Regions from separate parts of the Homo sapiens genome. Here regions 1 and 3 are each reported to be linked to region 2. Evidence: microRNA targets listed by miRTarBase, many of them from high-throughput screens and not tested one by one. Region 2 holds a microRNA gene; each other region holds the end of a gene's coding sequence.

Evidence for each region. Region 2 holds the annotated microRNA hsa-miR-583 (CAAAGAGGAAGGUCCCAUUAC, at 1,907-1,927, shown strand). A microRNA usually pairs through its seed, bases 2 to 8, with sites in the 3' UTR of a target mRNA and lowers its output. Matches are read on the target gene's strand: a 7mer-m8 pairs with bases 2 to 8, a 7mer-A1 pairs with bases 2 to 7 and ends in A, and an 8mer does both.
Region 1: miRTarBase lists HNRNPDL as a target of hsa-miR-583. The part of its 3' UTR that is shown has no 7-base or 8-base seed match.
Region 3: the mRNA of DDX5 is a reported target of hsa-miR-583. Seed matches in the 3' UTR shown: 7mer-A1 at 559-565.

The regions. Positions count from the first base shown.
Region 1 is chr4:82,423,630-82,426,629 of GRCh38, reverse strand. HNRNPDL (heterogeneous nuclear ribonucleoprotein D like) reads left to right here. Exons shown (of 8, transcript NM_031372.4): 6 at 1-167; 7 at 501-593; 8 at 1,747-3,000. The coding sequence ends at 571. Among named protein-coding and RNA genes, the nearest start is that of HNRNPDL, 5.3 kb to the left of the region's middle.
Region 2 is chr5:96,077,247-96,080,608 of GRCh38, forward strand. It overlaps MIR583 (microRNA 583), which reads left to right and starts at 1,892; the gene lies at 1,892-1,966. The region is part of intron 1 of LOC101929710 (a long non-coding RNA gene); the gene reads left to right. It also overlaps a transcript of CAST not described here.
Region 3 is chr17:64,497,079-64,500,440 of GRCh38, reverse strand. It overlaps DDX5 (DEAD-box helicase 5), which reads left to right. Exons shown (of 13, transcript NM_004396.5): 13 at 115-2,187. The coding sequence ends at 518. It also overlaps a transcript of MILR1 not described here. Among named protein-coding and RNA genes, the nearest start is that of POLG2, 1.7 kb to the right of the region's middle. RefSeq lists enhancers at 3,110-3,249, 3,351-3,362.

The sequences.
Region 1 (3,000 bases), not on the chromosome of region 2:
GGGCCAAAACTGGAACCAAGGATTTAATAACTATTATGATCAAGGATATGGAAATTACAATAGTGCCTATGGTGGTGATCAAAACTATAGTGGCTATGGCGGATATGATTATACTGGGTATAACTATGGGAACTATGGATATGGACAGGGATATGCAGACTACAGTGGTAAGAATATTTAACTTAATTTTATAAAGCAGTGGTATTAAAATTCATTGTTAACATACAATCCTGTTCTGAAATTGTGTGTATGGGCTTTCCATTAAAGTGTTCGGAGTTAAGTGTTTGAGGCATGTTACAATCATAGGATGATTATACTAACATAGACTGGTGGTTATAAATGAACTAGGATGTATGATTTATGAGTAGCATCTAATGGGTGCTAAAATATCTTAATACTTTTTATTTAGCATGCAAAGATTTGTAGATTTAATAGTTTGTGTTTGTAAAGAAAGTTTTGTAGAAAACTATCTTAATGAGAATTCTGTGTTTTCAAAATAGGCCAACAGAGCACTTATGGCAAGGCATCTCGAGGGGGTGGCAATCACCAAAACAATTACCAGCCATACTAAAGGAGAACATTGGAGAAAACAGGTGTGTATAAGAGTACAGGAAAACAGTAGAAATGTCTAATTTAATTTAAAGATCAATAGACAAATGAAACGTAAAAACAAAATACTATGTAGCCTGTTTTTACTAAATTGTTGATTTTTTAATTGCTTTATGAGCCTGTTTTGCCTAAAGTGTCTATAGATCTTTAACTTTAAAGTCTTATCTCACTTTCTTTAGTATTGCAGAAAAACTTAAGAGTTTTTCTGTTTGCTTTTGTGTACCAGGTGGTCTAGAGGAATAATTAAACATTTTAGAACTATTAACAGGTAAAGTACTGAAATGGGTACAACTTAAGGAAAACAAGAATGTTGTCTTCTAACTCTGACATTATACCTTGTTTGTACCCGCCAGCGGGAACTTCATTGCAGGCCGTGTGTCACCCTGACCACGTCTATCTCTGGGGGTCGCACGTTGCGGGCAGAGCGCAAGGCATACACCAGAAAACGCTGTCCTGTGGTATGGTCTCTTCCAACTTCATGTACCAGCGTAAAGATTAAAGTGGAAAACTTCAGACTTTGGCTTCATTTTTAATCTTTTTGGAGATTAAGTGTCTAAACTTAACTTAAATGGTTTTTTACAGGAGTTAAAGTACATAAATGCCTTTTTACAGCTTAATCATTTTGGTCTTCTGTTTAGTGTTGTATTTCAATTGTGGAGCCTCATTTTAAGTGTTCATTCTTTTAAGATTTAATGCTTGCTTTTTCTTTTTATAGCTAATAGTGAAATCTACAAACCAAAACAAGAACTTTTAAATCTGGGATATAAATTAAAGATCATATGCACAGATCAATTTATGTTCTTGTAATAAACTTATTAGAAATTGGTGTTTGTGATAGCATTTTACTTGGGTTACTAGAGATGCTTCTAGTAGACCTTAATCTAGCATAGTTGAACCTCTGAATATGGGAAGGTTGTATTCCCAGATTCTTTCCTGAATAGATTTGAATTTAATGTCATTTGGGAACTCCAGGGTGAGTTTATTGACTACCCAAACTGTATTTTACCAATAAATATGCATATGATCTTTAATTATTGAAGAAAATAAAGTGAGGACTTAAAACAATTCATGAAAGTGGACCTTTAAAAGCTTGTCAGAGTTGCACAAATCTAACTGGTATTTTGTTTTTGTTTTTAGGAGGAGATGTTAAAGTAACCCATCTTGCAGGACGACATTGAAGATTGGTCTTCTGTTGATCTAAGATGATTATTTTGTAAAAGACTTTCTAGTGTACAAGACACCATTGTGTCCAACTGTATATAGCTGCCAATTAGTTTTCTTTGTTTTTACTTTGTCCTTTGCTATCTGTGTTATGACTCAATGTGGATTTGTTTATACACATTTTATTTGTATCATTTCATGTTAAACCTCAAATAAATGCTTCCTTATGTGATTGCTTTTCTGCGTCAGGTACTACATAGCTCTGTAAAAAATGTAATTTAAAATAAGCAATAATTAAGGCACAGTTGATTTTGTAGAGTATTGGTCCATACAGAGAAACTGTGGTCCTTTATAAATAGCCAGCCAGCGTCACCCTCTTCTCCAATTTGTAGGTGTATTTTATGCTCTTAAGGCTTCATCTTCTCCCTGTAACTGAGATTTCTACCACACCTTTGAACAATGTTCTTTCCCTTCTGGTTATCTGAAGACTGTCCTGAAAGGAAGACATAAGTGTTGTGATTAGTAGAAGCTTTCTAGTAGACCATATTTCTTCTGGATTGTAATAAAATTGTTAGTAGCTCCTTTTACTTTGTTCCTGTCTCTGGAAAGCCATTTTTGAATTGCTGATTACTTTGGCTTTAATCAGTGGTCACCTAGAAAAAGCTTTGTAATCATAACACAATGAGTAATTCTTGATAAAAGTTCAGATACAAAAGGAGCACTGTAAAACTGGTAGGAGCTATGGTTTAAGAGCATTGGAAGTAGTTACAACTCAAGGATTTTGGTAGAAAGGTATGAGTTTGGTCGAAAAATTAAAATAGTGGCAAAATAAGATTTAGTTGTGTTTTCTCAGAGCCGCCACAAGATTGAACAAAATGTTTTCTGTTTGGGCATCCTGAGGAAGTTGTATTAGCTGTTAATGCTCTGTGAGTTTAGAAAAAGTCTTGATAGTAAATCTAGTTTTTGACACAGTGCATGAACTAAGTAGTTAAATATTTACATATTCAGAAAGGAATAGTGGAAAAGGTATCTTGGTTATGACAAAGTCATTACAAATGTGACTAAGTCATTACAAATGTGACTGAGTCATTACAGTGGACCCTCTGGGTGCATTGAAAAGAATCCGTTTTATATCCAGGTTTCAGAGGACCTGGAATAATAAAAAGCTTTGGATTTTGCATTCAGTGTAGTTGGATTTTGGGACCTTGGCCTCAGTGTTATTTACTGGGA
Region 2 (3,362 bases):
TAAATTCTCAGAAATGTTATAATGGTTAAGATTACGAACATCTTTAGGGTTCTTGCTATTTATTGACAAATACTTTTTAAAGTGTATATAGCATGACTGTATAACTTTCTCTGCAATTTTATGTATATTTGGTATTATCATTTATTTGCTTTAATTTGCATTTCTTTGATTATTAGGCAGATACACATTTTTCTTTGTGGATTTTATTGTTTTTGCTAGTTGTATTTATTTGCATGTGAATTCTGTGGTATCGTCTGGATATTTGATCCACCCAAACTTCATGTTGAAATTGTGGGGCTGCTTAGGTCATGGGGCCAGATCCCTCATGGATAGATTAATGCCCTTCCTGATGAGGGGAGGGAGTTTGTAAGTTCTCCCTCTATTAGTTCCTGAAATAACTGGTTGTTAAAGGGTCTGACACCTTCCTTCTCCCTTTCCTGCTTCCTTTCTTGCCATGTGATACTGCACACACTGGCTCCCCTTCTCCTTCTACCATGAGTGGAAGCAGCTTGATGCCCTCACCACAAGCAGATGCTGGTGCCATGCTTCCTGTACAGCCTGCAGAACCATAAGCCAAATAAACCCCTTTTCTTTATAAATTATCCAGCCTCAACATAAGATGAACTAACTTGTTTAATCTGTTTTACTATTTCTGTAAGGAACAGTACACTTTGACTACTGGATAGCTGGATTACCTATGCTATAGTAATCTTCAGACCAGGAACATTAGAACATTTTTTTCTTAGGTGAGATTTATCTGAAACCATCTCACTACATTTTACATTTAGCAGATGTAACTATTAAATTGGTATAATAAAGAAATTATCCTGCTTCTTGCTGTGCCCTCACATGGCAGAGGGAGAGAGAGCACAAGCTCTCTTGTCTCTTATGATAAAGGTACTAATTCCATCGTGACAGCCCGACCCTCATGTCCTTATCTAAACCTAAATACCTTCCAGAGGCCCCATCTCTAGACACCATGACATTGGGGTTTCAACATATGAATTTTGGGAGAGACACAAACATTTAGTTCTTAACACTCCCCTTCTCCCTCAGGCCACTTCAGTCTACCCAAGTACACAGCCTCCTAATTAAGGGGTACTTGGTGATTCTTAAAGACAGGGGTAAATTTTCATGAACATCTGATCAAGCTTTTTTTTTTTTTAGACGGAGTTTTGCTTTTGTTGCCCAGCCTGGAGTGCAATGGTGCAATCTCAGCTCACTGCAACCTCCGCCTCCCAGGTTCAAGCAATTCTCCTGACTCAGCCTCCCAAGTAGCTGGGATTACAGGAATGTGCCACCACGCCCGGCTAATTTTTTCATATTTTAGTAGAGATGGGGTTTCACCATCTTGATCAAGCTTTTAAAAATTGAATTAATAGGTATAGAACACAATGAAACAAACCAAGAAAGAACAAGTGGAAAGAAAGTAGTTAGAGCACTTAATGTCAAGTTAAATCAATCACTAAGCATAATTTGTCTTGTGGGTATTGATGATGGCATGTGGTATGTGTTGAGATTTAAGAATGTATTTCACAGTGACATGGATGGAGCTGGAAACCATTATCCTTAACAAACTAACACAGGAACAGAAAACCAAGTATTGCATGTTCTCACTTATAAGTGGGAGCTGAATGATGAGAACATAGGGACACATAGAGGGAAACAACACATACTGGGGCCTTTTGGAGGGTGCTGGGTGGGAGGCAGGAGAGGATCAGGAAGTATAATTAATGGGTTCTAGACTTAATACCTGGGTGATGAAATAATCTGTACAACAAAACCCCATGATACAAGTTTACCTATGTAACAAACCTGTATATGTACCCATGCACTTAAAGTTAAAAAAAAACCTATTTAAATGATAGGAAGGCTGTTCTTTACATCTTACAACTCACACATTAACCAAAGAGGAAGGTCCCATTACTGCAGGGATCTTAGCAGTACTGGGACCTACCTCTTTGGTACTTTCCCCTGGGCCCCCTTCATTTCACTCCCTACCCACACTCTTTGTCCTGAGCTCCCACTTACCAAATGGCATCAGGCTTGTTACTCATTTGGCTATTTTCTCTTGTGAGTCAGGAATGATTCAATATCCTGGCAAGGGTTAGGAAGGCTAGTCTTTTTAAAGAGCTCTCTTATAGGTAAATACAAACATGATAACTTGGGTGTTTGAAACCACTTTTAAGTATGTTTTTTACTAATTCTTAAGGTTGAAGAGATATCTTGGGATAAAAAATTGCATTAGTTGACAATTTAAAAAATGTAGTTTGTAAAGTCTGAATAACTCTTATTTGTATATGGTAAAAAGTGTAAATTACAAAAAAGATATACAATGAAAAATGAATTTCCTTCTCATTTCACATCCCTAGTTCTCTCTGTCTCCCCTTCAGAGGCAACCACTACTAATTACTTGCTAGCACCCTTCCACAAACATTCTCTACGTAATCAAACTTCAATATTGTTTATATAGCAACCTTTAAGAATCAATTAGGAACATACTATATACATCTTGGTTATTATTATTTTTAACTTAACCATGTTTTGTTTCTTAGAAATTTTTCTATATCAGCACAAATAGCTTTATCCTATTCTTTTAAATGGCCCTATGATGAGGATATGCCTTAATTTATTAAAGTAGTCCTCTAATAATAGGTATTTAGGTTATTTCTAGTCTTTTAAAAAGCAAACCCCACTGCCTGAAAAGCCTTATATATACATATTCGTGCATTTGTGTGGTTTTGTAAGTATATTTGTAGTATATCTATAGGTTGAATAACAGCATGAAGAGAAATATGATCTTGTAGTGGTTAAAAGCATAATTATTATGGGTTTGACTGCCTGCTACTGGCCTACGACTTATTAGCCATATAACCTAGGACAAGTTACTCAACTTTCTGTACCTCAGTTTTCTTATCTGCAAAATGGGTATAAATAATAGTATATACCTTGAAGAGGTGTTATGGGCATTAAAGGACCTAACAGAAGTACATCATGCTGATATCCACATATAATACATTCTACATAAATTATCTCACTAGGATACTTTCCTGGAAAACAGGACTTTCTCTTTTAAAAATATTAATGCTATCATTGGATGATAACTGTTTTTCTTCTTGAAACTTGACAAAATCTCACTACTAAGCTTATTACAAATACTGATATAATTCATGCTCATTTTGGCTTGAAGGAGATAGTTTGGCAGGGCAAATTGAGAGTAAAGTTCCTGACCATAGGTATAAGTGAAAGTCTGAATTTAGTCTTAATTTGTTTTTGAACATTAGATTAAAGTTCATCATTTTGGACCTCAGTGTCCTTATCTGTTACATGCAGGGATTAGATTAGATGATCCCTAAAGTATC
Region 3 (3,362 bases), not on the chromosome of region 2:
GCTGAAAAATTGTAAAAACATTTCACGCCTACCATGAATAGATCTGTTTCTTTCTGTCCACAATGATTTGTGTCATAGACATAATTGATCAATTTGCAATTGTTTTCTTGACAGGTCGTTCCAGGGGTAGAGGAGGCATGAAGGATGACCGTCGGGACAGATACTCTGCGGGCAAAAGGGGTGGATTTAATACCTTTAGAGACAGGGAAAATTATGACAGAGGTTACTCTAGCCTGCTTAAAAGAGATTTTGGGGCAAAAACTCAGAATGGTGTTTACAGTGCTGCAAATTACACCAATGGGAGCTTTGGAAGTAATTTTGTGTCTGCTGGTATACAGACCAGTTTTAGGACTGGTAATCCAACAGGGACTTACCAGAATGGTTATGATAGCACTCAGCAATACGGAAGTAATGTTCCAAATATGCACAATGGTATGAACCAACAGGCATATGCATATCCTGCTACTGCAGCTGCACCTATGATTGGTTATCCAATGCCAACAGGATATTCCCAATAAGACTTTAGAAGTATATGTAAATGTCTGTTTTTCATAATTGCTCTTTATATTGTGTGTTATCTGACAAGATAGTTATTTAAGAAACATGGGAATTGCAGAAATGACTGCAGTGCAGCAGTAATTATGGTGCACTTTTTCGCTATTTAAGTTGGATATTTCTCTACATTCCTGAAACAATTTTTAGGTTTTTTTTGTACTAGAAAATGCAGGCAGTGTTTTCACAAAAGTAAATGTACAGTGATTTGAAATACAATAAATGAAGGCAATGCATGGCCTTCCAATAAAAAATATTTGAAGACTGAATTAAGTGGAAATTGTACTTTATTTTATATAATGTCATGTAAAACTTTGCTTAAGATGGTCTGGTTTTTTTTTTGTTTTTGTTTGGTTTTTTTTTTCCATGAAAACAAATGACTGTTCCTTTTTATTTAATTTGGGAGGCAGGGGGAATCAGAAGGCCCTTCTTTATAATGAGCTATTCATATTGCAGGAGTCAGAATGAATTGATACAGGTGAATTTTTAGTTACAGGCTAAATTGCATAAAAGCTTTGTCAGCTTCCAGCATCAGGGGAGTCATTTAATAGCCTTTTTCCTTATTTGCTAGTATGGTTAAATGAGAAAATAGTAAAATAGATACAAAGTCATCTATATAGTGTGAGAACGTGGGTGACTTTTTCAAAGTTTATAATTTAAAAAGCTCCAAATAACTGGCTTTTTCAAGAGACTTATACTCATGCTCTTGGCTATACTGTGAATTACTGAAATGTTGAACAAACCTGTGAAAGACATACATTAGCCCTTTAAGATGGCCAGGAGCTAAGCTTGAGTCTCCTTTACTGAATTTCGTTCTTAGTGCAGGTTACTTGTAGATTCTAGTCTTCACAGGCTCCCTGGGGCTCTTAACTAGTCACACTGGGAGTCATGAATGTCTTTCCAATAATTCAGGGAATTCTAGAGATCCTCAAACTGTAAGGTCTATTCATACTCAACACAAGGAAAAAACCTCATTAAAATTAATGACTAATCAGGAGGCAACGTAACCAAAAGCACAGTGAATGAAAGTTTTCATGGTAGGTTCAACATGGGTTTATTGCTAGAAAGATCCAGGGGATAGCTTTAGGTTTAACTTCGGCTCACCAACGTAACTTTCTAATCATTTATTTCAGTAATAGCTAGAAGTGGGTCTGAATGTTTTCCCAGAGTCTGATACGTGTTTTTTTTTGCCAGAAGAGAGGTCTTCAGGAGACTTCATTTAAATTCTGATTATTAAACTGAGGCTTTAATTGATGTTAATGCCTTATGTCAAATGTAAAGTTAGAATTTGCTAGGGCTGGGATAGGGAGTGATATTTCTAGGACTTAGACATTGAAAACTAATTCAGCCTGTAGTAACCTGGATGGTTTTCAATGGCATGGTTAGTCAAATTCATGGTTTTAAACTTAGAAGCAGCTTTCGGGGGAGAGGGTAGGTTGGAGCATTTATTACATATTTTACTGTTTAATGTCTTAACCGTGGGCCTTTTAATTTGTAAACACTGAAATGATTGTTGGGCTGTGGAAAACATTTACCTATTTACCTTGGAAGTTTTAAAAGACAGTCCACTTTTTAGCATGTGTGTTGTGTCCAGCCTGTGGTCGTCTTAACTAATAAATGTGATTTTTCTCCCCATTCTCTCTTTTTATTTATTTGCGTATAGGCCTTTTACCTGGTGTGAGTTCCTGAATGTGGAAAACACCTGGCAGTAGTACCCAGCTTTGCAGTTAATTACTATCTAGCTGGCCTTTTTTTAAACCCTTGTATACACTTGTAAAGAAGAACTATTTCCTGAACCTGGTACAGCACTTTACTAATGATAAAACTTTACTCCTGAATTACATTAACTCAATTGCTAAGCTGTTACCCCTCTTAATCAGGTAGTAGTTTGGTAGTCTCACAGTGAAATGTAGATTGTTCCTTTTTCCCTGAACCTCTTTAAAGGTTTTCGTAACTGAGGCTGGTATAAGAAATCATGGACTTTGGAATCAAACTTCCTCAGTCTGGGTATACCACTTTTCCACTTTCTGGGTAGGTCTTAAGGTCTCGACCTATTTAAATAGAAACTGCAAAATCAGAAACCTGCAATTTAATCATGAGTCTCTTAATAATAACAGTCACAAGTCTCATTGTTTTGATGAACCCATAGAAGGGGCCCCTGGAAGAAATTGCACGTACGTGGTTTTCTCTGACACCAGGAGGGTTTAAGACATGTCAGGGCCCCTTGGTTTATTTCTAGTGCATTCCCAGGTGAGGCAGATGCTGCTGGCTGGGGACTGCCCTTTGGAAGCCACTGCAATATTTAAAGTGACCATACCACTACCCTAGTCACGAAGCCTATCGCCCCCCTCCCCGGAAGCTTAAGCGTCAAGACAACGGCTCTGGGGTTAGGCCTAGGCCACCTGGCGGCAGCATTTGCCTAGTTAAGAAGGCCTGGGCTTACAAATCACCGTAAAGGACTAAAACTGTTTAAAGGGAAACCAAATGCCAAATTTAGTCCAAGTGCTTGATTGAGGTGTATATAGAAGGTGATTTGGATAATACTGAAGTATTTTAATTTTCTGGACTGCAAAACAGTGGCAGAAGGAAGTGACTCAAGTGGCTACACCACGGTTATAAATAGGTGGGAATAACCTTTACTGGTGCTTACGAGGAAAGAAAAAAGTCAATCTGAAGGGAGGGGCGCGACGCGAACGGCAAGCTAGCAGAGAACCATCCGAGCCGGCGTCCGCCATGGTGGGCGGGGGACGGCTGCGGCCGGAACGCAGACATGCGCTTCCGGGGTGGGGCCTGCCGCCCGCAAGCACGCT